4 linked regions of the Homo sapiens genome follow. The protein of the gene in region 3 interacts with the protein of the main gene of each other region in a biochemical or structural test. Each region holds a gene or a part of one and is shown on either strand. Other genes may lie near its edges. The genes, in order: LRP6, NIN, GSK3B and SNAI2.

Evidence for each region.
Region 1: of the proteins of GSK3B (region 3) and LRP6, one has a biochemical effect on the other in vitro, tested with the Homo sapiens proteins (2 studies listed by BioGRID, with this or other methods).
Region 2: of the proteins of GSK3B (region 3) and NIN, one has a biochemical effect on the other in vitro, tested with the Homo sapiens proteins (2 studies listed by BioGRID and IntAct).
Region 4: of the proteins of GSK3B (region 3) and SNAI2, one has a biochemical effect on the other in vitro, tested with the Homo sapiens proteins (2 studies listed by BioGRID).

What each region holds. Positions count from the first base shown.
Region 1 is NC_000012.12:12,179,708-12,187,044, forward strand, and holds part of LRP6 (low-density lipoprotein receptor-related protein 6 isoform b precursor), read right to left. Parts: coding exon 7,216-7,337; intron 4,405-7,215; coding exon 4,273-4,404; intron 1,733-4,272; coding exon 1,336-1,732; intron 275-1,335; coding exon 103-274; intron 1-102. UniProt on the Homo sapiens protein: Component of the Wnt-Fzd-LRP5-LRP6 complex that triggers beta-catenin signaling through inducing aggregation of receptor-ligand complexes into ribosome-sized signalosomes.
Region 2 is NC_000014.9:50,751,069-50,758,405, reverse strand, and holds part of NIN (ninein), read left to right. Parts: coding exon 1-1,914; intron 1,915-3,538; coding exon 3,539-3,664; intron 3,665-3,773; coding exon 3,774-3,843; intron 3,844-5,672; coding exon 5,673-5,888; intron 5,889-7,337. UniProt on the Homo sapiens protein: Centrosomal protein required in the positioning and anchorage of the microtubule minus-end in epithelial cells. May also act as a centrosome maturation factor.
Region 3 is NC_000003.12:120,000,332-120,007,668, forward strand, and holds part of GSK3B (glycogen synthase kinase-3 beta), read right to left. Parts: intron 1,909-7,337; coding exon 1,715-1,908; intron 1-1,714. UniProt on the Homo sapiens protein: Constitutively active protein kinase that acts as a negative regulator in the hormonal control of glucose homeostasis, Wnt signaling and regulation of transcription factors and microtubules, by phosphorylating and inactivating glycogen synthase (GYS1 or GYS2), EIF2B, CTNNB1/beta-catenin, APC, AXIN1, DPYSL2/CRMP2, JUN, NFATC1/NFATC, MAPT/TAU and MACF1.
Region 4 is NC_000008.11:48,918,287-48,926,111, forward strand, and holds the start of SNAI2 (zinc finger protein SNAI2), read right to left. Parts: upstream 3,144-7,825; 5' UTR 2,980-3,143; coding exon 2,901-2,979; intron 2,156-2,900; coding exon 1,610-2,155; intron 703-1,609; coding exon 521-702; 3' UTR 1-520. UniProt on the Homo sapiens protein: Transcriptional repressor that modulates both activator-dependent and basal transcription. Involved in the generation and migration of neural crest cells.

The sequences.
Region 1 (7,337 bases), on a different chromosome or scaffold from region 3:
GACAACTGTTAAGAAAAAAGAATATCTGTACTCAAATCATTATACTGTCGACTCAAAACCCATTATAAAAGTGGCTTGAAAATGAAAAAGCAAAAAACAAACCTCAATCTTGTCTGTTTTGGCATCTCCCCAGTATATTTTGCCTTCATCATAATCCAAGGCTAAACCATTTGGCCAACCAAGAGAAGTGTTAACCAATACTACACGGTCAGAACCATCCAGAGCTGCTCGCTCAATTTTCGGAATTTCTCCCCAGTCAGTCCAATACATGTACCTAGAGAAGTATACAAAAAATGAGCTAAAAATAGATAATAAAATGTAACTTTCAGATATTCTAAAGGTGAGATCCATCCCTCCTATTACACTGGTATCATCAGTTAATGCCAAGGAAGGGGAAAAAAAAAAAAACATATGAAGAGGTGTTTAAGACATTTATCCCAGCAATATATAAGATTGTGGGAAATTTTCAGATCAGTGTGTTCTAGAGCCAATCCTGAAAATGCCTCCCAATAATGAGATTACAGTTTTACTTCTTTTTTTTTTTTTTTTTTTTAAATATTTTGTGTGCCCTTTTCCATGAACTTTCTCTCTCTTTTCCTTGATGGCTTGTCATCTCTCTGACACAAAAGGCTTATCCCAGCAGTATTAGTCAGATGGCAAACTGAATTCTCAAAATAACTATTTCTTCCTGCAGTGCTAAGTGATTCTTACGGCTCCTGGATGTTTAGATGGCTCTAAGGCATTGGTATATACTGAGGTGTAATTTGTCACTATGCTTGTCCTCAGAATAAATCTCAAAGTAACAAAATTGTTGAGTATGTAAAAAGTTGTACTTCCCTGGACTATGATCAGGGTGGCATGGCAAAACAAAACAAACAACAACAACAAACTAGAAGTAAAGCTGCATGGGCTGGCAAAGTTTTGGAAATCAAGTCATTCATGTATTTAGGGAAAAAAAAGTAAGCTATATTCTTACTATAAAGTACTGAAAATGGAATTAAAGCTTCTAGGGGAAGGGAAAGAGTTCTGAAAACAATTTCTTCCCACATTTTTCATGGTAATGATGCAATCCGAGCAAAATCTGCAGACAACACCCAAAGTCAGCAAACATGGACTTAATTTAGAAAGAAAAAATATCTAAGACATCCAAGGCAAAAAACTAGCAATTTTTAAACTTGAGATTGTATTCTAATCACCATATCCTAAAATAGACAGCCATTAAAGAGCTGTTTACTGGAAACCAATATATATGTCATGTTATCTTAGTCAATGTTTTCAGGAACCTGTGAAAAACAGAAACACCACACAGAATTTACTATCAGTAGAGCTTCTTACCCAACCATGGGATCTAACACAATAGCCCGGGGTTCCTCTAAGTCCTCTGAAATCAAGATCTTCCTCATGGTCCCATTGAGCCTTGTCACTTCTATTCGATCAGTGCCAGTGTCTGTCCAATAAAGATTTCGTGCAACCCAGTCCACAGCAATACCATCAGGATGGGCAATTTGAGCAGTGACCACAAACTGACTGCCAGATCCATCTATAAATGAACGGCGTATGGCCCTCACTTCATCATCAGTCCAGTAGATGTAGCCTTCCACAGGATCGTAATCTATGGCAATGGCATGACGGATGTCTTCTAACTGCAGAACAATGTCTGTAAAATCTGGTGTATCCAAAGAAATGCGTCTCAAGTCTGTCCTTCGAGCTAAAAGCAATAATTCTGTGGCACCTAGAACAACAAAGTGAAATGAAGAATACTTTGAAACCCAGAGGTAAAATTTACCTGCTCTAGATAAAGAATCAAGAACTGAAAAATAAATATAAAATATACATAAATTAACACAAAAGGATGTGCACTCTCTTTAGAGTGGAAATGGAAAGTAATACAGTGAAATAGAAGAGTCTACTCTGAGGTCAAGCTGTTTAATGGCTAACTCTCCAAATTAAGTTGTGATACATTCTATGGTTTCATTGGAATTAATCCAGCTATTTAAAAGTACAATGAATAATGACTATGTAATGACTAAGAAGCTAAGTAGCTCAGTATTAAAGGAGAAGGAAATGTAGGATATAGATCCTTTGTTCAAGAAGCATTTTTTAAAAAAAGATAAAGAAATTTAGGACAAGAATCTTTGTGCTTGATAGGAATGTTCTAAAATTGGATTGTGGTGATAACTGCGTAACTCTGTAAATTTACTAAAAAGTCACCGAATTGTACAATTTAAAAAATGGATGGATTTTATATGCTATGTAAGTTACATCTCAGTAAAACTGTCTTAACAAAGAGAAATACAGGGCAATACCTCACAGAATTGAGGACAAAGCAAGCTATGGAGAAACAAACAGCTGCAATGGAGGGAAGGAACCAGATAAACATAACACAGTGGTTAAGAGTTGTGGATCCAATATAATTTGATTCAAGAAGCTACACAAACTTTGGGAAAATATCTAATCTCGCTAAGCCTAGTTTCCCCATCTATACCTTGTAAGGTTGTTGTAAGGATTAAAGGAGATAAATCTAAAACTCAGGAAAGTACTGAACATTTAAGTACTCAAGAAATATTAACTAATACTTAACAACAGTATTAAAAAATAAAGATTTTCAGATTTTTATTTCACTGAATTTTAAATTAGGTTTATTTATGAACTGTTTAAAGCCCAAGCCCCAAATACTTAACCACATAACCAAGAATGAAGATACTGAGCTCAATCTTTTTTTCATTTTAAATTGTTCAAGTAAACCACCAGCAAAAAATCGTCTAACTATAGGAAGCTAATAAAAGACAGTAAGCAAATTGACAACTGAAAGAATAAGAAAAGATTCCCAGCTAAATAAATGAGTCCAAAACAAAATACTGGCATATAAACTTCAAGAATCAATCTGCAATTACAAGTCAAAAAACTGAGAAGAGGAGTGAAGCCTCTCAATATCAGCCCTTTCACTCTAGAGCTAATTATAAATGAATTCCAACTTGAAGAAAATACAGCCCAAATGCCACTGCAGGAACCAAGTAGGAATAACTTTGTACAATTCACTGCCCCGGCTAACAACCAAAAGGAGCCAGCCTAGAACTTCACAAAGAAGTCATAGAGCTGTTAATTTGAGCAAGGTGATCAAAACAGAACAGTTAACTTAAGGCTACTACATGCCAAATGCACACATGAAATTCAAAACTGGTTAAATATGTACACTTGCACTGCTGTGAGGGAGCAGATAGACCATTATTGCTAAAATAAATCCTCTGTTTTAAAGTCAGGCTACATTTTTAAAGAAAAAAGCAACATTACAAAAACCTTTTGTTTTAAATTGAAACCAAATTGCTGTCTGCCATGGAAACCATTTGACCAAGAGTCAGCCAGCTTCACCTTTTACTATGAGGATAATTTATCAATGCCAAGTCATAACAAACATCCTGTACACAGACTCAATTCCATCTCTCTGACTCCCTGGCCCCCTTGCCAGGGACTCTAACACACTCCAAAACACAGGCTTCTGCTTTTCAGAGTTAGATAAAGAAGCCACAGCTAAATACAACAATTTTCTTACCAGGTCTTGCTGGTTGCTAGAGAACCAGATGGTGATCCATAGGGGTGAGAATGAAGAATAACATTCTCATTAAGAAGAAAAACAGAAGAACTGGTGTTCTTCCAAACTGGAAGTCCCTTAAAATGTCCTAAATCAGTATACTTTCTCCAACGTGCCCTCTCTCTATAGGGAATTAAGAGTAAGGAGAACAGGCAAAGTGTGTTTCTTAAGTATAAAAAGAAGTTGTTTTAAATATGGATTTTTTTTCCCAGCTCTGAAAGCATCTCTCTGTTGTTAAAAAGCAATTTAAAACATCCTTAAATAATTTGTTATAAAATATATCTCATGATATTCTTTGTAGCTAAAAGTTTAATAAACATACTTTCTTTCACAGAGGTTCTTTATTCACAAATGCTACCTGTTAAAAATATATTCCTTATGCGACTACTCATTTCCATAGTTATCAACTGTGATATCAATGACTATGAGATTTGACAGAAAAGATACAACACGTAACTTTTTTCAAAAATATGTTATTTAAAACACTAAAATAATTTATAAAATAGCATTCAAGTGATGCCACAGAACAAAACACTCCTATTCTATAACCATGTGTGAAGACTGTGAAATTAAGTGACTGGTCTCCCAAAGCAGTATAACCTAGAGAGCTGATTATAGAGAAAACAAATCATGAAGAATTCCAATAGTTATAAAATTTTTCATTTTGGATAATATCTTCTTACCATCTTTGCAGGTTTTTCCATTCTCCAGGAGTTTGACCCCAGTGGGGCAAGCACACTGATAAAAAGGCTTGACTGGAGACATCAAACACAAATGGGAACAACCCCCATTGTCAATTCCACATGGATTTGTGGCTGTCAAATATAAATCACATTGATTAATATCAATGATTACTAAGTACACAAAGGTTAACAACCATAACATGAACAACTGTGATAAGCCAAAATTATTACCAAATGTCATGCAGGTGCTTGACTATCAAACCATCTGCAAAGACAGGAATTAATCAGTGTGAATTTACTTAGTATTTTGTAACCAAAGAGGAATACACAAGAAGTAAAGCAGGAGATCCCTGCCCTAAAAGAGGTTACAATTTAGTCAGTTAAACAAAATTAACAAAAAGCAAAACTAAAAACAAACAAACAAACAAACAAAACCAATAAAACTAAGTGCTATTTTGCACATTATAGACAATAAGTACAGAGTCAAATGGGAAAAAAACCGCTGAGGTTTAAAGAATTGAAGAAGAGCTTTGTGGAGTATACAGCACGGGAGCCTTCAAGGATAGGAAGGATAGATAAGAGGACATTTCAAGTATGGTAAAGCTATCTGAATAAAACTTTGGGGGCTATAAACTGGGTAAGATATTAAGGTGAACAGTATAACTGGAGGTTAAGGTTTCTACTGACTAATAGGAACTAAAGCTGAATGAATACAAAGAATGGGAATAGATTAAAGTGAAGGACACTGAAAGCCAAGAAAAGTAATTATGTTGAAAAGTCATGCCTTGGGAAGATTAACATAGAAGGGATAAGCAGAAAAAAGGGGAAAATGAAAATCAGAGAAAACTAATTAGCAAACTTTGGAAATTATGGAAAGGGATATGTCCAAACAATACTCATAGAAAAAAATCAACATAAGATGGAGACCAATGGAACATGAAAGATAAAAGTAACCAACATGAAAGATAACTGCAAATTCTCAAATTAGTAAAACATAAAGGACCAACAATGCCATTTAAAAAGAAAAACAAGAGGCCAGGCACGGTGGCTCGTGACTATAATCCCAGCACTTTGGGAGGCCTAGGTGCGTGGATCACTTGAGCCCAGGAGTTTGAGACCAGCCTGGGTCACCAACATGGTGAGACCCTACCTCTATAAAAAATACTAAAATTAGCCAGGTGTGGTGGCATATGCCTGTAGTCCCAGCTACTAGGGAGGCTGAGGTGGAAAGATCACTTGAGCCTGGAAGTTCGAGGCTGCAGGGAGCCGTGATCACATAAACGCACAACAGAGCAAGACTCTATCTCAAAAAACAAACAAAAAACAGGGAAAATTCTCTTTTGAGGGCTATGAAGAATAAAAAAATTCATACAAGTGACTGAACATTTTCTTTTGTACAGAAGAGTAACACATACACTTAAAAACATTTTTATGGGCTCATGATCATCAGATTCCAACATAACACTTTCAATATTTGATTATCTCCCCCTAAATGGAGAGCTAATATAAAGCAACATATGTTGCAAAATCTCTTCATTTTTGGCTATGTAATAAAATCTGAAATACACTCAGACAGATGCCAGACATTTATTTACACAAAAGTGCCAAACCCTTAACATTCTCGTATTCCTTTTAAACCTAATTCCAGTCCTCTCTTACAAGTTCTCAGCAGTCATAGCCCGAGTCATTGTAAAGGCTGACCAAACACAGAACCAAAACTAAGGAAAACAAGGTGGGAGGGGTACACAGAAAAGTTTAAGTAGGTATTTTATTTAGCAAGCTGAGGTACTTAAATTCAAATATATTCTAGATTAACAGAGTTTTCATTTAAAAAGAAGAGGCGTTTTTGTGTGTGTGTGTGTTTTTTGTTTTTTTTTTTTTTGAGACATAATTTCTTTCTTGTTGCCCAGGCTGAAAGTGCAATGGCGTGATCTTGGCTCACTGCAACCTCTGCCTCCCGGGTTCAAGCGATTCTCCAGCCTCAGCCTCCCAAGTAGCTGGGATTATAAGCACACGCCACCACGCCTGGCTAATATTTTTGTTATTTTAGTAGAGACGGGGTTTCACCATGTTGGCCAGGCTGGTCTCAAACTCCTGACCTCAAGTGATCCACCTGCCTTGGCCTCCCAAAGTGTGGGATTACAGGCATGAGCCACCGCGCCTGGCCCAAGAGTTTGTTTTTTAAACACACTCACATCAACACATTCAACTACATACTGAAAGAAATAATATGAACAAAAAAACTCATTTGTGTATAAGCCTAGCATATAAGCTATCTCAATTTTTAAATTATCTCTCTCTTCTCCACCTCTAAAAGCGCTGACTCAAAAAGGCTGAGGTGGTCTGTAGTGACAGGCTACAAAATGGTCTAGGCTATTGCCTAACCTGAATTATACTTTTACATTTTCCCTTTTTTTTGAGCAAAGTCTCGCTCTGTTGCCCAGGCTGGAGTGCAGTGGCACAATCTCGGCTCACTGCAATCTCCACCTTCCGGGTTCAAGTGACACTCCTGCCTCAGCCTCCCAAGCGGCTGGGACTACAGGTGCACACTACCACACCCCATTAATTTTTGTATTTTTTAGTAGAGACAGGGTTTCACCAGGTTGGCCAGGCTGGTCTCAAACTCCTGACCTCATATGATCTGCCTGCTTCAGTCTCCCAAAGTGCTGGGATTTTAACTTTTTTTTTTTTTTTTTTGAGACACAGTCTTTCTCTGTCTCCCAGGCTGGAGTGCAGTGGCGCAATCTCAGCTCACTGCAACCTCGGCCTCCCGAGTTCAAGTGATTCTCTTGCCTCAGCCTCCCAAGTAGGATTTTAACTCTTTTTTATTCCCGCCAACTATCTTTGGATATGCCCTCCCTCCTCCTGATCCTCACTAAAGCCAGACATTAGAGTGCTACAAAGCTGTTCCAACTTGCAATTTAAAAATCAAGGATCACTTACCATTTGGCTGCCTCTGTTGGCTGAAGGCATGTATATCCATGGGAGAGAAGATGTCAGAATGGATTTCACGCAGACCCTCACCAGTATACTTGTTGCAAGCCAAAATGGAGTGTGTGCTCCAG
Region 2 (7,337 bases), on a different chromosome or scaffold from region 3:
GCTGAAAGAGACTCTTAAGAGAGAGAAAACAACTTCTCTGGTCCTGACCCAGGAGAGAGAGATGCTGGAGAAAACATACAAAGAACATTTGAACAGCATGGTCGTCGAGAGACAGCAGCTACTCCAAGACCTGGAAGACCTAAGAAATGTATCTGAAACCCAGCAAAGCCTGCTGTCTGACCAGATACTTGAGCTGAAGAGCAGTCACAAAAGGGAACTGAGGGAGCGTGAGGAGGTCCTGTGCCAGGCAGGGGCTTCGGAGCAGCTGGCCAGCCAGCGGCTGGAAAGACTAGAAATGGAACATGACCAGGAAAGGCAGGAAATGATGTCCAAGCTTCTAGCCATGGAGAACATTCACAAAGCGACCTGTGAGACAGCAGATCGAGAAAGAGCCGAGATGAGCACAGAAATCTCCAGACTTCAGAGTAAAATAAAGGAAATGCAGCAGGCAACATCTCCTCTCTCAATGCTTCAGAGTGGTTGCCAGGTGATAGGAGAGGAGGAGGTGGAAGGAGATGGAGCCCTGTCCCTGCTTCAGCAAGGGGAGCAGCTGTTGGAAGAAAATGGGGACGTCCTCTTAAGCCTGCAGAGAGCTCATGAACAGGCAGTGAAGGAAAATGTGAAAATGGCTACTGAAATTTCTAGATTGCAACAGAGGCTACAAAAGTTAGAGCCAGGGTTAGTAATGTCTTCTTGTTTGGATGAGCCAGCTACTGAGTTTTTTGGAAATACTGCGGAACAAACAGAGCAGTTTTTACAGCAAAACCGAACGAAGCAAGTAGAAGGTGTGACCAGGCGGCATGTCCTAAGTGACCTGGAAGATGATGAGGTCCGGGACCTGGGAAGTACAGGGACGAGCTCTGTTCAGAGACAGGAAGTCAAAATAGAGGAGTCTGAAGCTTCAGTAGAGGGTTTTTCTGAGCTTGAAAACAGTGAAGAGACCAGGACTGAATCCTGGGAGCTGAAGAATCAGATTAGTCAGCTTCAGGAACAGCTAATGATGTTATGTGCGGACTGTGATCGAGCTTCTGAAAAGAAACAGGACCTACTTTTTGATGTTTCTGTGCTAAAAAAGAAACTGAAGATGCTTGAGAGAATCCCTGAGGCTTCTCCCAAATATAAGCTGTTGTATGAAGATGTGAGCCGAGAAAATGACTGCCTTCAGGAAGAGCTGAGAATGATGGAGACACGCTACGATGAGGCACTAGAAAATAACAAAGAACTCACTGCAGAGGTTTTCAGGTTGCAGGATGAGCTGAAGAAAATGGAGGAAGTCACTGAAACATTCCTCAGCCTGGAAAAGAGTTACGATGAGGTCAAAATAGAAAATGAGGGGCTGAATGTTCTGGTTTTGAGACTTCAAGGCAAGATTGAGAAGCTTCAGGAAAGCGTGGTCCAGCGGTGTGACTGCTGCTTATGGGAAGCCAGTTTAGAGAACCTGGAAATCGAACCTGATGGAAATATACTCCAGCTCAATCAGACACTGGAAGAGTGTGTGCCCAGGGTTAGGAGTGTACATCATGTCATAGAGGAATGTAAGCAAGAAAACCAGTACCTTGAGGGGAACACACAGCTCTTGGAAAAAGTAAAAGCACATGAAATTGCCTGGTTACATGGAACAATTCAGACACATCAAGAAAGGCCAAGAGTACAGAATCAAGTTATACTGGAGGAAAACACTACTCTCCTAGGCTTTCAAGACAAACATTTTCAGCATCAGGCCACCATAGCAGAGTTAGAACTGGAGAAAACAAAGTTACAGGAGCTGACTAGGAAGTTGAAGGAGAGAGTCACTATTTTAGTTAAGCAAAAAGATGTACTTTCTCACGGAGAAAAGGAGGAAGAGCTGAAGGCAATGATGCATGACTTGCAGATCACGTGCAGTGAGATGCAGCAAAAAGTTGAACTTCTGAGGTAATGTATGTACCTTCTAGACGTCACGAATCCCACAGAGCACCTCACCAGATCTAACTTCCACTGCTTGCCGTGCCTAGAGAAACTAACCTAGTAGTCTTCACGAAGAGAGCAGTACTCTCTAGACTTCCTTCTGCTTCTGTGCCGTATTAACAAATAAAATAACCTTGTTTAGGAGGCATTCCCTTCCGCTGTAGCAAACAAGTGTTCATATGGGGTGTGAAAGTTCACAATGGCGAGTGTTTGCTGTTTAACCATGTGCATCCTCAATGTACCTCTTTAACTTTTTTCTAGCACTTATTTCATTTAGATGGATAGGGGATTTTTTTTTTTTATTTTGCTAAGTGTTACTTTCCTCATTTTGAGGAAACATGTTATATACAAATGAATGATTTTTTGTGTATTATTAACTTAGTAGATAAGAACTCACTTCTTATGCTAATATAGAAAAAATGTTCTGTCTTTATAGTTTTGTACTCATATCACTTGAAGCACATGCTGATAACCCATAAACAGTGCAAATGGTCAGGCACCATGGCTTAAATGCCTGCAATCTCAACTGTTTGGGAGGCCAAGGCAAGAGGATTTCTTGAGGCCAGGAGTTTCCAGGCAAGCCTAGGGAACATAGCAAGACTGCCTCTACAGAAAAATAAAAAAATGTTTGCTGGGCGTGGTGGTGCACACCTGTGGTCCCAGCTACTTGGGAGGCCGAGGTGGGAGGGTTGCTTGAGCTTGAGAGGTCAAAGCTGCAGTGAGCCATGATCATGCCATTGTACTCCAGACTGGGTGACAGAGTGAGACCCTGTCTCTTTTAAAAAAAAAAAAAAAAAAAAAAAAAAAAAAGAGACAAAACAAACAGTGGAAATTTATCTTAGAACATATAATTTGAGGAGCCTCCAGATTCTAATAAATATGCTTGAAAAGCAGAGATACAAGTAGAATTAATTTGAACCACTGCCCACTTGACATTGTAAAATATAATTGCATAGTCTTCTAGCAAATTTGGTTTTTCAAAAAAAAAAAAAACTTGTAAACTATTACAGGACGTCTGAAATGTCTCTGAAATAATTTAATTCTGAATGTAGTTTTTCCTCTTCTTCAGACCATTTTTAGTCCTAAAAATCAGAATATAATGAGATGAATAAAATCACAAAGTAAACAGTGTACATATTTCATTGTGGCCCTTTGATTTCAATAGAGAATTTTCTTTCCCTAGGTACCCAGGGGCCTAAAACTAAGCTAATATAGCTTTGTAACATGGCTTATGTGTATTCAGAACAGGTAGGACTTGAGACTGAGATAAATGAAGACATTTGCTCAAAGCAGTATGCTTGCCATTGAGAAAAATCAACAACCAGAATGAGCATTGAGTCTTGATTCATTTCTCCAGGCTTAAGGGTTTTTTAGCTACACTTCTCTAACATCTTTTAGTGAAATTCTTACTTCCCAAAAGAAATGTGTCAATATGTCATAACTCGATTTCCAAATACTAAGAGACTACTAATTTAGACTTTTCTTTTTAACTGGCATTGAATACTCATCCTTTTGGAAGTTACTAGAAAATATTTTCCAAAGATGCCAGATGACTGCCTTGTAACAATTTTTTTCAATCTCTGTGCTTCAGATATGAATCTGAAAAGCTTCAACAGGAAAATTCTATTTTGAGAAATGAAATTACTACTTTAAATGAAGAAGATAGCATTTCTAACCTGAAATTAGGGACATTAAATGGATCTCAGGAAGAAATGTGGTAAGACGTATACTTACATTTTCCTAAGACATTTTTGCAAAGACTAAAATTCTTTTACTTCAGCTTTTAAAGCCTAACCATTAAATTTTATTTTCATCATTCCTTTTAGGCAAAAAACGGAAACTGTAAAACAAGAAAATGCTGCAGTTCAGAAGATGGTTGAAAATTTAAAGAAACAGGTAAGGAAATACTTAATATTTCTCAATGTTTTTTGATTCCAAAATTTTCCCATTTTTTGAAATTTATAAATTTACAGCACACGGTAATGAATAGCATATAGCTAATGATGGTAAGGTTGTAAATTCTGAATTTGAAAATGGAAACTTACCTCATACTGACTCTAAACTAGCTTCCTGTTTTATGTTAAATAATGTATATATTATTCTAGGCCCTAAGTGCTTGATAAAGCTTTATCATCAGCAGAATTGAGGAGGTGATACCTCTAAAACCATACCTACGAAATATTAGCTGTAGCCCTTGTGCAGTTTCAGTTAATGTTAGCCCTTCCTTTTTCCTCACCATGATTGAAAGCAGAAAGTTAAGGGCAGAATTTCACATATACAGAATGCCAGCTAATCAGCATATCATTTCACAGAATTACATTTTATTCAGATAGCTGGTGCCATTCAGTGCTCAATTTGTATAATCTTACAACATGCAGTTATAAAAAGGGAAGGCCATTTAAGAATCTGTCTGAAGCAGTCAAAAGACAAGGACATATTGGGAAAGAGTATTTTCAGCACTTGAAATAGACAAGGTGTTAACATCCAAAATGTATTTTGGACTCTTACAAATAAATGGGAAAATCCAGTTGAAATATAGGCAATCTATATGAATGGTCAAGTCACAGAAAAAAAAAAGAATACAAAAGATGGTTAGCCTTATTAGTGATTAGAGAAGTGCAAATTCAATAAGCGTCTTTTTTTTAACCTATTGAATTAGCAAGAAGTAAAGATTGATATCTAGTATTTAAAAGGATGTGAGGAAATGACTGTGCCCATGCATTGTTGTTAGGATTATAAGGTGGTAGCACTGTGAGGAAGACATATTAGAGATATCTGTTGAAACAATAATGAATATATATCTATATACAGATCTTCTAACCCAGCAATCCTACTTCTAAAAAATAATTCTAAATACAAAATACTACCATGTATAAATGGATTTTCTAAAAGATCCATTTAAAAGAAATAATGATTTTAAAAACTTTATGTCTATCAACGTGGGAACAGATAAATGCATTATGGAATATCTTACTACATGGAATATCCTATAGCCAGTAAAAAGTAGTATGTGGTGGTTGCTGAACACACTGACTTGGAAAGAGTCTTTTTTCCTTTTGAGACGGAGTTTCGCTCTTGTTGCCCAGGCTGGAGTGCAATGGCGCAATCTCAGCTCACTGCAACTTCTGCCCCCTGGGTTCAAGCGATTCTCCTGTCTCAGCCTCCCAAATAGCTGGGATTACAGGCACATGCCACCACACCCGGCTAATTTTTGTATTTTTAGTAGAGATGGGGTTTCATCATATTGTTCAGGCTGGTCTCGAACTCCTGACCTCAGGTGATCCGCCTGTCTCGGCGTCCCAAAGTGCTGGGATTACAGGCGTGAGCCACCGTGCCCACCTGGAAAGAGTCTTTAAGTAAGTAAGTAGAAAAAGCAAGCTGTCCAAACATAAAATTTCCAAATTTTGCTAAAGAGAAGAAAAGAATCTGTATGTGTGTATGGGTTCTGTATATGCGTAGAAAATGATCTGGAGGGACACATATCCAGCTGTGGACAATGGGCTCCCCTGTAGAGTGGGGTCAGACTGAGTGTCTCACTTCTTCATACACTTGTGAATGGAATGAATTTGTAATAATGAGTGTGTATTATTTCTGTTTTGAAATATATATATATTTTAAACTTTATATAAAGAGGGAAAAGACAATTATGTCTCTAAATCTGTTTTTTTTTTTTTTTAGCACAAGTAGGGTAACAAGTTTGAAAAACTTATTTTAATTTTAATTAGATTTCAGAATTAAAAATCAAAAACCAACAATTGGATTTGGAAAATACAGAACTTAGCCAAAAGAACTCTCAAAACCAGGAAAAACTGCAAGAACTTAATCAACGTCTAACAGAAATGCTATGCCAGAAGGAAAAAGAGCCAGGAAACAGTGCATTGGAGGAACGGGAACAAGAGAAGTTTAATCTGAAAGAAGAACTGGAACGTTGTAAAGTGCAGGTATGGCCTGTAGCCACCTGACAGCTTTTTTTGAGGAAATCCCAAGAAATAGAAGAAATGTTTGTATTAAACTTCCTTAAACATAAAGCCTTAGTAATTAAAACAGTATGGTCCTGGCACATGAATAGATAAGTAGGTAAGTGGAATAGAAAGTCTAGAATTAGACCCAAATACAAATGGAAACGTAGTGTATAACCAGGGCCACTTCTCAAACCACTGGGGTAAAGATGGACTTTTAAATTAATGGTGCCTGAACAACTGAGTAGACATTCGGAAATAGATAAAATTAGACCTATGTTTCATTCCATGCACAAGGATAAACTTAATTGGATTAGGAGACTAAATATAAAAAAAAAAAACTATACAAATATTTGAAGAAAATACGGGTGAATTTGTCTTTAACCCTGGTGTAAAGAAAGGCTATTTAACTGTAACTCAAAAACCGGAGGCAATAAAAGAAAACACTGATTATATGTTAAAAAAAGTTTACTTGGCAAAAAGATACCATAAACAAAGTTAGAAGACAGCTGACAAACTAGGAGAAAATATTCACAACATATACCACAGTGAGAAGGCCTAATATCCCTGCTAGTAAAGAACTCTTAAAAATGGAGGGACATGGGACCAAAAATTTGATAGCAAAATGGGAGAAGCATACGAACAAATAAATCATATACAAAAGATAAAAATGGGCCAGGCGTGGTGTCTCACACCTGTAATCCCAGCACTTTGGGAGGCCGAGGCAGGAGAATAGCTTGAGCCTAGGAGTTCAAGACCAGCCTGGACAACATAACAAGACTCCATCTCTACAAAAAGTTTAAAAATTGGCTGGGTGTAGTGGCACACACCTGTGGTCCTAGCTACTCAGGAAGCTGAGGCAGGAGGATCCCTTGAGGCTGTACCACTACACTCTAGCCTGGGTGAGACCCTATCTCTAAATAATAAAATAAAATTATTAAAATGGCCCTCAAATCTATGGAAAAATGTTCAGAATCACTCAAAATTAGAGAAACGCAAATTAAAACAACACTTGTATAATTTCTCACCTATAAGACTGGCATCAATTTTAAAATATGACAGCATACTCTGTTGGCAAGGCTGTGGGGAAACAGACTCTTTCATGCTTTGCTGGGAGAATACAAACTGGTACCGCCTTTTTGTAGGTGAATTTGACAATACCTAACAAAATTACATATGTACCTAGCTTTTGCCCTGGAAATCTCACTTCTAGGAATCTACCCTAAAGATACCACCGCAACAATATGAAAACTCATATGCAGAGGGTTACTCACTGCAGCACTGTTTCTAATTGCAAAATGGTGGAAACAACATAGATGCTGATGTGTAGGAGAGTAGGTGAATACATGTGGGGGTTATGTCCATACCATGAAGTAGTACTGTGCAGCTGTTCAAGAAAAAGGAAGAAAAGAAATCCTTATTTATATGAAA
Region 3 (7,337 bases):
ATAACAGTACAATATTCAGATATCAAGATCCAGTGGGCATTTGACAACATGAGACTAGTACTTGGGGGAGAGGTGAGAACTGAAAACAAAAACAACTGAATTTTTAAAAATTCTTTAGAATGTTCCAGATATTTACAGCAGATGGACACTAGAATGTGGTATAACTAGTGTTATACCAGAACAGTGATCACTTCTTCTTGTTATATCCCTTCATGTTTACCATAGATCTTGGTACATTGGAGGCTCCCACTAAAATGTTGCAGAGGTTGGAAGAGTAGTAAAGGGAGCAACGCTGCATAGTGACAGAGGCTTAATTACACCCGGTGTCTTCTGACTCTCTCTGCTATACCACAACATAGAGATGACATCTGAGCTTCCATGCATAGGCTCCCCTAATGAGGTACAGAAAATGAAAATACATGACGAGAACTGAATTTTGGGATTGCTAGTGTCTAAAGGCAGAAGGACAAGAAAAAAAAGGGAAGATAGCAAAAAAAAAAAAAAAAAGTTACGAGAAAAATGGATAGTGTTGTAATATGGTTTGGATGTTTATCCCTTTCCAAACCTCATGTTGAAATGTAATCTCCTTTTTTTTTTTTTTTTTTTTTTTTGAGACAGAGTCTCACTCTGTCCCCCAAGCTGGAGTGCAGTGGCGCGATCTCGGCTCACTACAAGCTCTGCCTCCCGGGTTCACGCCATTCTCCTACTTCAGCCTCCCAAGTAGCTGGGACTACAAGCGCCCGCCACCATACCCGGCTAATTTTTTGTATTTTTAGTAGAGACGGGGTAGAGCCTGGTGGGAGGTATTGGATCAAGGGGGTCAACCACTCATGAATGGGGTTAGCACCATCCCCTTGTTGATGAGTGAGTTCCCACTCAGTTAGTTCACAGGAGATCTGGTTATTTAAGAGAGTCTGGGGACGGGCATGGTGGCTCACGCCTGTAATCCCAGCACTTTGGGAGGCTGAGACAGGCGACTTGCCTGAGCTCAGGAGATTGAGACTAGCTTGGACAACATGGCAAAACCCCGTTTCTACAAAATAGTAATAACAATAATAATAATAATAAAGTCTGGATCTCCCCCTTCATGCTCTCGCTCAGCTCTTGCCATGTGATGCACCTACTCGCCCTTCACCTTCTGCCCATGATTAGAAGTTTCCTGAGACAATTACTAGAAGCAGATGTCTGCACCACACTTCCTGTACAGTTTGCAGAATTGTGAGCCAATTAAACCTCTTTTCTTTATAAATTACTCAATATCAGGTATTCCTTTATAGAGATGCAAAAACAGACTAACACAAGTTGCAACATGGATTAAAAAAATTTTTTGAAAAAAGGAAGCATAGTCAAATACATAAAATGCTTATATGCTACAGGCAGTGTTCCTCTGGTCTACATCAACACAGTACAACGGTGAGGACAGGTCACTTTTTATAGTATAAATTAAGAAATTTTAACTTACCTTTCACAGGATTAAAAAATACATATATTACATATGTCATTTGTAATGACTACAAAAGTAATACTGCAATCTTCAGTGAATGTTATCTCTACAAAATACATGACTAGAAATAAAATCACTACAATGGTTGAGCTGAACAAAAATGCGCACAATAGAAGAAATTTGAAGCAAAAAGAAGCAACTAAAAAAATAATCATTTATGGTATATGTATTACGACAGCAACAAAATATATGAAATACTGGACATTTTACCTTAAATCTCTTGTCCTGCAATACTTTCTTGATGGCGACCAGTTCTCCTGAATCACAAAGTTTGGCTTGATATACCACACCAAATGATCCATTTCCAATCACTTTAGTGTCTGTATAGCTGACTTCTTGTGGCCTGTCTGGACCCTGCCCAGGAGTTGCCACCACTGTTGTCACCTTGCTGCCGTCCTTGTCTCCTAAAGGAAGAAAGGAAATTTTTTTTTCACGAGAACTGTAAGGAATTAAATAGAGAAAACTGCCAAAATATACAAGGTAAACTATATTCTTTATTTTTTATTTTATTTTTTTTTTTGAGATGGAGTCTCACTCTTGTCACCCAGGCTGTTGTGCAGTCACACAATCTCGGCTCACTGCAACCTCCGTCTGCCGGGTTCAATCAATTCTCCTGCCTCAGCCTCCCGAGTAGCTAGGATTACAGGCACCTGCCACCACGTCTGGCTAATTTTTGTATTTCTAGCAGAGACGCGGTTTCACCATGTTGGCCAGGCTGGTCTTGAACTCCTGACCTCAGGTGATCCGCCCTCCTTGGCCTCCAAAGTGCTGGGATTACAGGCATCAGCCACCACGCCTGGTCAAAGTAAACTATATTCTTTACTACAAATTATTTTTAGTTTATTACATGTAATTACTTCAATTACTTGTTTCAATTATAAGTCATTTTTTAAACTCCCATGTATTCAGTCATTCTATAGACCAGACACAATGCTTAGTTTCAACCCCATGAGGTAGACAGTACTGTTCCCATATTATAGGTAATAGGAAGAATGTTAAATTTGCCCATGGTCAAATAGCAAAAGGTGAACCCATAAGAGTCTGACCTTATCCATCCAATTCTAAAAGGCCTTAGGGCTTTCTTCAAGACCTTATTTTACTTGAAAATAAAATATGTGCAAATAAAAATGTTTAAAACTTCTCTCTTCAGATCCTTCTGCATTTAGGAAAGTAAGGCTTTGAGTGTTTGCTTCCCTGAATCTTCTTTTTAGCAAAGTAGAAGACCTCTCAGAGAAAGCTCAGGTGGAGAAAAGAATGTTAATTTGGGGTTAACAGATATAAAAATTTAAATAATCCAACCCATTCTGAACTGAGGCCCAATTATATAAGCATATCACTGGCTCCAGGGTCTCTATTCACTCACAGACCTCTTCTTTCCTTTTTTGCCTTCTCTCACCCCAGTAGCAATCCAACGGCTCTCTTCAATTCAGGCACAAGAGCCACCTCCTACTTCACTAGGGATAGTCCACAGTCACCATCTTGTTTTCTGAATTCTTAATCGATTCTGTGTATTATGCTACCTAGTATCTGATCTAAAAGAGCTTTACATTGTTCTTTTAGTGACTTCAACGTACACAAAAATGTCTACTGTTTCTTCTCTCTTCCCTGACAAATCTAAAACCAATTCTCAGTACAATATAAGTCCTTAGGCTCACTTATTGGACTTTTATTTTTTCCTGTTATTCTTCCATTACAATTTCCTTTCTAAAATACTAACTGAATTCCAATTAACCTAATAAAAGAAAAGTAATATAATATTTATGAGTATTTTTCTCTGTGAAATATAAATTGCTAGATAAATGAATATCCAAATGCACTAGTGGAATATTATAACCAATATTTATATCCATTTAAATTCACAGAAGTATTAATATACACAAAAGCCAGTGAATGTCTGTGACCAATTAACACTTTCATTTGTAAGATGGCATTCATGGTCGCTTCCAAGATGGCTGAATAGGAACAGTTCTGGTCTACAACTCCCAGGAAGATCTTTGCAGAACACAGGTGATTTCTGCATTTCCAACTTAGGTACCTGGTTCATCTCACTGGGACTGGTTGGACAGCAGGTGCAGCCCATGGAGGGCGAGCCGAAGCAGGGTGGGGCATTGCCTCACCTGGGAAGTGCAAAGGGTTGGGGGATTTCCCTTTCCTACCCAAGGGAAGGCATGAGTGGCTGTACCTGGAGGAGCGATACACTCCTGCCCAAATACTGCACTTTCCCAATGCTCTTCGCAACAGGCAGACCAGAAGATCCCCTCCCATGCCTGACTCGGCGGGTCCCACGCCCACACAGCCTTGTTCGCTGCCAGCACAGCAGTCTGAGATCAACCTAAGATGTGGGAGCTTGGTGGGGGGAGGGGCGTTTGCCATTGCTGAGGCTTGAGTAGGCAGTTCTATGCTCACAGTGTAAACAAAGCAGCAGGGAAGCTCAAACTCGGCAGAGACCACCACAGCTGAGCAAGGCCTACTGCCTCTCTAGATTCCACCTCTGGGGGCAGGGCATATCTGAACAAAAGGCAGCAGACAGCTTCTGCAGACTTAAACGTCCCTGCCTGACAGCTCTGAAGACAGCAATGGTTCTCCCAGCATGGCGTTTCAGCTCCCGATAAGGGACAGACTGTTATCCAAGTGGTTCCCTGACCCCTGTGTAGCCTGACTGGGAGATATCTCCCAGTAATGGCCAACAGACACCTCATACAGGTGGGTGCCCCTCTGGGACGAAGCATCCAGAGGAAGGATCAGGCAGCAATATCTGCTGTTCTGCAGCCTCCTCTGGTGATACCCAGGCAAACAGGGTCTGGAGTGGACCTCTAGCAAACTCCAATAGACCTGCAGCTAAGGTACCTGACTGTTAGAAGGAAAACTAACAAACAGAAAGGAACAGCATCAACATCAACACAAAGGACATCCACACCAAAACCCCATACGTAGGCCACCAACATCAAAGACCAAAGATAGATAAAACCACAAAGATGGGGAGAAACCACAGCAGAAAGGTTGAAAATTCCAAAAACCATAACGCCTCTTCTCCTCCAAAGAAACACAACTACTCGCCAGCAAGGGAACAAAACTGGATGCAGAATGAGTTTGACAAGATGACAGAAGTAGGCTTCAGAAGGTCAGTAATAACAAACTTCTCCAAGTTAAAGAAGTATGTTCTAACCCATTGCAAGGAAGCTAAAAACCTTGACAAAAGGTTAGACGAATGGCTAACTAGAATAAACAGTGTAGAGAAGAGCTTAAATGACCTGATGAAGCTGAAAACCAGAGTATGAGAACATGGTGAAGCATACACAAGCTTCAGTAGCTGATTCAATCAAGCAGAAGAAAGGATATCAGTGACTGAAGATCAAATTAATGAAATAAAGCGAGAAGACAAGATTAGAAAAAAAAGAGTGAAAAGAAATGAACAAAGCCTTCAAGAAATACGGCATTATGTGAAAAGACCAAATCTACGTTTGAATGGTGTACCTGAAAGTGATGGGGAGAATGGAATCAAGTTAGAAACCACTCTTAAGGATATTCACCAGGAGAACTTCCCCAACATAGCAAGGCAGGCCAACATTCAAATTCAGGAAATACAGAGACCACCACAAAGATACTCCTCAAGAAGAGCAACCCCAAGACACATAATTGTCAGATTCACCAAGGTTTAAATGAAGGAAAAAATGTTAAGGGCAGCCAGAGAAAGGTTGGGTTACCCACAAAGGGAAGGCCATCAGACTAACAGCAGATCTCTCGGCAGAAACTCTACAAGCCAGAAGAGAGTAGGGGGAAAATATTCAACATTCTTAAAGAAAAGAATTTTCAACCCAGAATTTCATATCCCGCCAAACTAAGCTTCATAAGTGAAGGAGAAATAAAATCCTTTACGGACAAGCAAATGCTGAGAGATTTTGTCACCACCAGGCCTGCCTTACAAGAGCTCCTGAAGGAAGCACTAAACATGGATAGCAACAACCGGTAGCAGCCATTGCAAAAACATGCCAAATTATAAAGACCATCGATGCTAAGAAGAAATTGCATCAATTAATGGGCAAAATAACCAGCTAGCATCATAATGACAGGATCAAATTCACATATAACAATATTAACCTTAAATGTAAATGGGCTAAATTCCCCAATTAAAAGACACAGGCTGGCAAACTGGATAAAGACTCAAGACCCATCAATGTGCTGTATTCAGGAGACCCATCTCACGTGCAAAGACACACATAGGCTCAAAATAAAGGGATGGAGAAAGATCTACCAAGCAAATGGAAAGCAAAAAAAAATCCTGGTCTCTGATAAAATAGACTTTAAACCAACGAAGATCAAAAGAGACAAAGAGGGCCATTACATAATGGTAAAGTGATCAATTCAACAAGAAGAGCTAACTATCCTAAAATATATGCACCCAATACAAGAGCACCCAGATTCATAAAGCAAGTCCTTGGAGACCTACAAAGAGACTGAGACTCCCACACAATAATAATGGGAGACTTTAACACCCCACTGTCAATATTAGACAGATCAAGGAGACAGAAAATTAACAAGGATACTCAGGACTTGAACTCAGCTTTGGACCAAGCGGACCTAATAGACACCTACAGAACTCTGCACCCCAAATAAACAGAATATACATTCTTCTCAGCACCACATCCCACTTATTCTAAAATTGACCACATAATTGGAAGTAAAGCACTCCTCAGCAAATGTAAAAGAACAGAAATCACAACAAACTGTCTCTCAGACCACAGTGCAATCAAATTAGAACTCAGCATTAAGAATCTCATTCAAAACCACACAACTGCATGGAAACTGAACAACCTGCTCCTGAATGACTACTTGGTAAATAACGAAATTAAGACAGAAAGAAATAAGTTATTTGAAACTAATGAGAACAAAGACACAACATACCAGAATCTCTGGAACACATTTAAAGCAGTGTTTAGAGGGAAACTTAGAGCACTAAATGCCCACAAGAGAAAGCAGGAGAGATCTAAATCAACATCCTAACATCACAATTAAAAGAACTAGACAAGCAAGAGCAAACAAATTCAAAACCTCGCAGAAGACAAGAAATAACTAAGATCAGAGCAGAAGTGAAAGAGATAGAGACAGAAAAAAAACCTTCAAAAAAAAAAATAAATGAATCCAGGAGCTGATTTTTTGAAAGATCAACAAAATAGACCATTAGCAACACTAATAAAGAAGAAACGAGAGAAGAATCAAATAGATGCAATAAAAAATGATAAAGGGGATCACCACTGATCCCACAGAAATACAAACTACTATCAGAGAATACTATAAACACCTCTACGCAAATAAACTAGAAAATCTACAAGAAATGGATAAATTCCTGGACACATACACCCTCCCAAGACTAAACCAGGAAGTCGAATCTCTGAATAGATCAATAACAGGTTCTGAAATTTAGGCAATAATTAATAGCCTACCAACCAAAAAAAGTCCAGGACCAGACAAATTCACAGCCGAATTCTACCAGAGGTACAAAGAGGAGCTGGTATCATTCCTTCTGAAACTGTTCCAATCAATAGAAAAAAGGGGAATCCTCCCTAACTCATTTTATGAGGCTAGCATCATCCTGATACCAAATGATATCTGGCAGAGACACAACAACAAAAAAAAAGAAATTTAGACCAATATCCCTGATGAACACTGATGCGAAAATCCTCAATGAAATACTGGCAAATCGAAACCAGCAGCACATCAAAAAGCTTATCCACCACGATCAAGTCGGCTTCATCCCTGGGATGACAGGCTGGTTCAACATATGCAAATCAATAAATGTAATCCATCACATAAACAGAACCAATGACAAAAACCA
Region 4 (7,825 bases), on a different chromosome or scaffold from region 3:
ATCAAAAAAAGGCTTTAGTTCAACAATGGCAACCAGACAACCGACATGTAATGGAGTAAACTTGGAATACTTTTTAAGGCACCTGAGTTCGCGTCTGGCAGATCTCTTCCTATGGGAAATCCTATTACAGACTCTATTACAAAGCAATACTGTTCTTTTCAGTTGAAATGATTTGGCAGCAATGTAAATCTTTGCATTTTTTTAGGAAGAAAAGATGCAATGTGCTTTTCATTTTATCTTTGAAGAGAAAGGTTACTGTCTTTTATTCTCTCAATCTAGCCATCAGCAAATATATAGTAATTTTAAACTTCACATGGAAAGGATTATCTTTAAACACATGAATTCCATGCTCTTGCAGCTCTCTCTCTGTGGGTGTGTGTGTGTGTGTGTGCATATGTGTGTGTGTCTATACATATTATTTGGTTGGTCAGCACAGGAGAAAATGCCTTTGGACTTTATTTGTCATTTGGCTTCGGAGTGAAGAAATGCATTCTGTTCGAGTAAACATTGATTGCGTCACTCAGTGTGCTACACAGCAGCCAGATTCCTCATGTTTGTGCAGGAGAGACATTCTGGAGAAGGTTTTGGAGCAGTTTTTGCACTGGTATTTCTTTACATCAGAATGGGTCTGCAGATGAGCCCTCAGATTTGACCTGTCTGCAAATGCTCTGTTGCAGTGAGGGCAAGAAAAAGGCTTCTCCCCTGGGGGTGGAGTGGGAGAAAAAAAGAAAGACAGTCAGTGTTTTTAGAGGAAACATAAAGTAAAATCATGTTAACAAAAGTCAATCACATTTTGCTTAAATAATGAGAAGCAGCAAAACCTGATTAAAATCCCTCATAATAGACACTTTTAAAAATACCTGAATTTTTAAGATAAACTTGAATATTGCATTTAAAAATCATACACGAATATTATTACTGCTGCCAATCATACAGAAATAATTTACGTAGTTCTTGGACTTTCACTTCTTAAAGCTTTCTGCTTTAGCAGATGCAGCTAATGTTGAGCACCTCCCAACATTTCCCAATATTTCCCCTTTTCCCTCTTTCTGTACTATGATTAAGGTGGTCTAAGTGCCATGATACCCTGCAGAATAATTCTGTGATACGAATAAGAAATTAAGGAGCAAAAAATCCCCAAACAAAGCAAGAGAGGCAAAGTAAATTTAGTTTCAACTATCCAAGTCACCCACGGGTGACAAATATCAGAGCAAGAATGTAACTAACAGAAAACTGTAGGAAAAGCCTTCATCTATTAACCAAATCAATTGATTAAGATAGCAACATTTGTATTTGCTGATTACTGGGGGCAGTTTCACAGAACACACATTCAAGCACATCTTTCCTGATTTTCTAACTGATCTTTGAGACCAAACCTTCTGAATCTACTTTCCAAAGTCTACATGCTGTTTGCAGTCCCTGGAGCAGAGGTTGTTAGCAAGAAATGGAGCACTTTGTGCCCTAACAACTTTTTGAGTAGTCAGGAAGTAGCTATCAATGACTGTCCATCATTAAAAGCACTATGTCACAACTTCATGCAAATCCAACAGCCAGCCCAGGGCTTCATTGTATCTCAGAGTAACATTCCTGCCTATGGTTTTTCTCTTACCCGTGTGAGTTCTAATGTGTCCTTGAAGCAACCAGGGTCTGGAAAACGCCTTGCCGCAGATCTTGCAAACACAAGGTAATGTGTGGGTCCGAATATGCATCTTCAGGGCGCCCAGGCTCACATATTCCTTGTCACAGTATTTACAGCTGAAAGATTTTCTAGACTGGGCATCGCAGTGCAGCTGCTTATGTTTGGCCAGCCCAGAAAAAGTTGAATAGGTCTTATTGCATAAATTGCACTGAAACTTTTCAGCTTCAATGGCATGGGGGTCTGAAAGCTTGGACTGTAGTCTTTCCTCTTCATCACTAATGGGGCTTTCTGAGCCACTGTGGTCCTTGGAGGAGGTGTCAGATGGAGGAGGGGGACTCACTCGCCCCAAAGATGAGGAGTATCCGGAAAGAGGAGAGAGGCCATTGGGTAGCTGGGCGTGGAATGGAGCAGCGGTAGTCCACACAGTGATGGGGCTGTATGCTCCTGAGCTGAGGATCTCTGGTTGTGGTATGACAGGCATGGAGTAACTCTCATAGAGATACGGGGAAATAATCACTGGGAAAGAAAAGGGAGGGAGAGAAGATTAAGGCAAAAATAATTAAAAATAAATCCACACGCAAGTATACACACACTGGAAAGATATTTAGCAACACACACGTGATTTTCTTAGGAAGAAGATAGACCCATTTAGGAGGGCATACACACTGGTAAAATGTTTCATTTCCACCCTGGCACCTACGGAGTTACTGTACTTAATGCACACATAGGCTGACAGCTGCACGGAGCTATAGGTGCTCTGAAGTCAGACAGTGCAGCCAAGCCAGTGCCTTCGCCGTCCCCATTGAGGAAGGAGAGCCTCAACATTATTTTTAAACATACAGAAAAGTTGTTTTCCATGTTACGTATGGGCTATTTAGGTGTATTACGACCGTGAGTACAAAGATATGCCTGCATCAAGCCGCCTTCTAAAGGAAAGGAGACTTAGTGCATGAAAAACGCAGTAATTCAATCCTTATGTTGCTCATCTTTCACATACTCATTATGCATGTATACACAGGCTTTAGCAAACGAAGCTGCGAGATTTGAATGAAATGTTCCTTGTTAGTCAAGAATTTTAAAAGTTTTGAATTAAAACGAACCCTAAATGATCAAAAGAATGTAAGCTCCCTTTCAGGACACTGTTAAAAAGGAAAACAGTTGAATCTTTGGCTCTTTTGTAATGGTATTTGAAGGGTAATACGTAGATTCATATTTGCAAAGCTCTAGATACGTAGTTCTAGATATATTTTTCTCTTTTTACCTGTATGTGTGTCCAGTTCGCTGTAGTTTGGCTTTTTGGAGGCGTTGAAATGCTTCTTGACCAGGAAGGAGCGCGGCATCTTGCCAGCGGGTCTGGCGGGCGCCCGGCGCGGATAACGGTCCGGCGGGAGGACACGGCGGTCCCTACAGCATCGCGGCGGGCCAGGCTCGGGCAGGGGCCGTGCTCAGGTGCGGCAGACGGACGGGCCGGCGCCTCTGAAGTCACCCGGCTCCTTTACGAACTGAGCCCGTTTTGGCTGGGAGGGTTTTTTTTTCCTCTCTTTTGCAAGAAAGATCCAATCACAGCTGAGAGGTTCAGATTTCAGCTCCTCCCTCTGGGACAGCTGTGAACAGAGGAAGAATCTGTTGTCAGACTAAATTATTCTGGTTCAAAATGGGCTGTTTTTTGAGATTTCAGTGGAGAGGAAAAAAAGTGTTTAAGTATTTTCAAGAGAGGTAACCTCGCTCGGTGAGCCCCGCCCGCGATCCACGCTCTCTGGGAGCTAGGAGGGGCGCAGGAGCCGGGGTCTCTGCCCTGCCCGCCTGGCTTCCAGATGTGGTGCAGCGCCAGCGCGCGGGGACACAGTGTCCGCCAGGAGAAGGAAGGGCCGCCCTGCACCACACCAGGCCAGCCTCTGGTGTTAATGAGAGCCTATATTTGGAAGTGGCATCTGGAGAGGTTTGCCTTGCACAAAGACCAAATAATTACCTCTTGGCTTTTGAAAAAGGAAGGGGGAAGCGGGAAGACAAAGGCGCCTGTGAGCGCGGAGGACGCTCTCCTGGGACTCTGGCCTGGAGCGGGACTGCAGCCTTGCGTGCGGCGAGGGCGCTGCGCTACTCAGGGCTTCCGCGAAGCCAGGGGCAGCGCGGCCGCGTGCAAATTAAGTACTCATGTCACCGTGTTAGCTATGGTGGCTTGAAAGAAATGCTTTGTAGCCCTCTAAAGGCAGGCTGATCGGAAGAACTGGAAGATTGCAAAGATAAAAAGGAACTCTGGCAGAGAAGGGGGGCAAGAGGTAACTGTCATTTGGAACCACCGGACATTCTCTCACACTTTTGACAAGAGATCTTATCTTTTCATGTATTACAGTGCATCTTTTTTTTTATGGGAAAAAGGGTTGTATGGGTCTTTAGAGACAATTATTTTTATTTCTAATATTCCCCTGCTTTTATGTGGTGCTATTTTCATCAGTATAAAGCCATTAAAATCCATCTCAGTATCTACCAGTTTCCTGTATAATGCTAAAAAAGAAATTGAAGGATATTATTATGAATATAGATTGATTAAAGTTTTAAGAACCCAGTCTAGTAACTGCAAAAACACCTTTATTTTGTGTATGGTCTTCAATCTAAAAATACTTTCAGGTGGTTTATTTTAAATATAAAATTTCAAGCATATTTTAAAGCATCTCTGTCCATTGCAGACTTTTATCCCTATCTTTTGCTAAAAGAATAAGGAAAGAACAAATTCACATGAAGATCACCCTACTCTTGTTTCTAACAGGTGCTGGAGGAAAAAAGTGAAAAAGAAAATAACAGTGGTGATGTCAAGACTTGTCAGAGAAAAGTGCATTGTCAGGTTGCATAACTTCTTAATCTTGGAATGAGAAAACAAGAGTGTATGTGTGTTTGGAGGGTGAGGTGGGGCACTCACAGATTTCCTAAGCTAATTTCAATGATTATTCTTATTTCTTCCAACAGTCACTAATTTAAATGTCAAACAGAGAAAATAATTCAAAGGAATCCTTATGCTAATGGAACTGTACTTGCAGGAGAGAGGAAAATATGAATACATATTCGATTTCTCCACACACAAACTGGAACCTGGAGTAAAAGCCAGAGGCAGTTTTCTAAGCTTGCTACTCTATGTGAGGGTTTGTTCGGATGTAGGCACCTGGGTTTATGAGAGCAGGAGTCCTCCTTGCTTTTCACTCCATTTCCCACAAAACACACATTTTTGTTACAGATATAGCACAGTTGAGAAAACACATATCGCCATGGCTATTATTTCCTTGTTTCACTCTACACAGTCTATTCACAACAAAGAAGAGTGTTAGACAATGTTTTGGTATTTATTTGCTGGTAGTTATAACACAAGATCATCTACTAAAATGTGTATTCAAAAATCCATTTACAACGTTTAATAATAATTCACTATGCATGAAAAAAGCTTACATTTGGATCACAGAGGCATAATCCAGCCCAGCCCCATCAGCAGGTATCCGAGGGTGCACTGCACAGATCGGCGTCAGGACGTGCGGCCACACCTACTGTGAGGAGAGGATGGGGCTCGGGTCTGTGCATGGGGCATGTCATTACACAGATCCGCGTGCTAGCGAGTAACACGTATGCCCGTGTGAGGTCTGGGCCGCTGTCAGAGCAGGGCGAGTCTGCGCGCTGATGGCGTGAGTCAGACGAAACAGGTGCTCTGCTCAGACACAGCGGAGGGCATGTGGCGCCAGCACCATGTGGTAAAAACGCAAGCCGGGAAGTCAAGGCCACACCCAAAGGCCAGCTGCTGGGACTCTGCTAAGACAAGACAGAGGTTTCCTTTCCTTCTGCCAGCCAGAGGGCTCATCTGGAGGGGTTGGCTTTGGTCGTTGACAAAAAGACTTTCTCTTGCCCAGGGACAGAAATCTTTGTGGAGGCAACTGCACCAGATTTTAAAGCTTTCATTCTGGAATCCAATAGAAGTCAAATCAATGACTGAGGGGGAAAAATGGAACAAGCAAACCCAAGTGGGTTTGCTAATCCAAGGATTCAGTCCTAGGTTGGTGAGAAATTGGTGCTCCATAATTAGGCTGATTGGGTTTATCAGCCTAATTTATTTCATAACAATTAAATAAATGGTGCTTGTTCTTAGAGCCACGTGGACACAGCCCAGCCAGGGTGAAGCCAGTGGGCACGGGTAAGACAAAAGGAAGGCACAAGCTCTGCTCTTAGGCTCTTGAGAGTTTAATGTAGTGTAGGGAGAAAAAAGGAACTCTGGAGGCCATAGTGAGGCTTAAAAAATAATCCTTCCTAGGCTTGAGCCACACTGGCGAGACTCCATGGCATGGGTTGTGCGGGTTGCCTGGCACCCCAGACACCCGTATAATCTAATTCCTTAATTGCCATGATGTGATTTGATGTGACGTACCTGACAGGCTCTCATTTTCTCTGTTTTCTGAAGAAGCTGACCAAGATAACTTGTGGAAAACTTTGTAAGTTAAAGATCTGGGCCAGCCTTCCCCACAGGCTCCCTGGATGGGTGGGGTTTCTCCCGGAGCCAGTTTTCTTCATGAAAGACACATTCTTGCCCTGCCAAGTAGGGGAATAAATTAGATCCGTGAGGTTTGGGAACGCACCTTGGGTTTCTTTACTTTGCGTGGAGATTTGTACACATTTAGGTATTTAGGTGTGTAAAAAGCAGTGCAAGTATTGACTACCATGTTTAGGAAATGGAGTAGTAAATCTAGCACCAGAAGAAACCAGAGTGTGGCATAGGCTGAAAAATCCCATTTTATGCTGTGTCCTATCTCCTAAAATGAAAGGCATCTCTTTCTAAGTTTGGTGTGTGGTATGATCACTCTGGAGGGGGTTCATATCTCCTCAATTCATATGCATATTCATATCCCTTGAAAAATATGAAGTGATGAAATATCATGAGTTTGGCTGTGCTATCTGGAGAATATTATAATACATTAGTAATTTTAAAAATCTATTTACATAGAAACAAAGCATTTATTAAATATAACTTTGAAGTTTGAATGACAAGGGTGTGATGCCATTTTGTGGGTTTTTAACATACACATATCTGTATGTAAAAGGATTTAGGAAGAAATATTCCTAAATTTCCTTTTGGAAAATTGTCAGAGCGGGCATGGGATTCTGCTTATATATTCTGAGCTCCACAATAAGGAGAACCTCTTTTCTCAAAGGGAATGGATGGCACTCGCCTATGCACTCCACATATGTAAGTATATGTGCTTGGTGATGTCAACAGGGCCAAATATGAGCATGAACACACCTTTGTGTGAGCACTCACATGTCTGAATGTTGGGAAAATAATAGCCAAAAATGGTGTCAGGATGTCCCTCTGCTGTTTAGGAGTTTCCATTATTTCCTGCGTGTTCCCAGTGTCATGTTCAGCAGGCCAATAGCCACTAGGCATCTGCGTCTGTCTGGAGTTAGTGCTAATGCCAATAGCTCAATAAGTACCATCACATATGATCAGTAAATATTTAAGATCACTCCAAACAGAAAACCCTTAACTTGGGAACAGCATTTTAATGAAATCTGCTTTCTGCCAAGTCACTTGTGTTCAGAATCTTATTCCTAGTTATGTTTGTATGATCTCATTTCCCTTTGGGTGGATAGAATATGGTTAAGTGCATCATGAAAAGTAAGAGATATTCATCTCTTCAGTGTTCTGTGTGTACCTTGTGGAAAGTGTTGATGATATTATCTGTAAAATGAAAAAGAAAGACTAGGGAGTGTTGAATTTGTGTGTATTTTAAGCGACAGCTCAGGGATATGTGGTTGCAAAGAGACATCTATTGGTCAGCTTCAGAAGACTCATTATTTTCTTTGTCTTTCTTTCCTTTTCCGTAACTTTTTAACAAGGTCTGCCACCTAGTGGAAAATGGGTGGATTTGACTCAACCCTGAGAACATCAACCTGACCTTGTTTTGCAATTGCCACAATTTCAGATGGACATTATATAAATTTGTTGAACTTATTAATGTACTCATAATTCAAAGTGACACATTTGTATTTGTAGAAATATGCACAACATTTACACAACAAATTATGATGATTTTATAAGATAGGCGAGAAAGGGAATGTTATGACGTCATCAGTCTGTGCAGTCAAGAAGGAAGTAGGCAGAAACAGCTAGCATTACACTGGAGGCAAGTGAGCAACCTTCTGGACTCTTTGTTATGT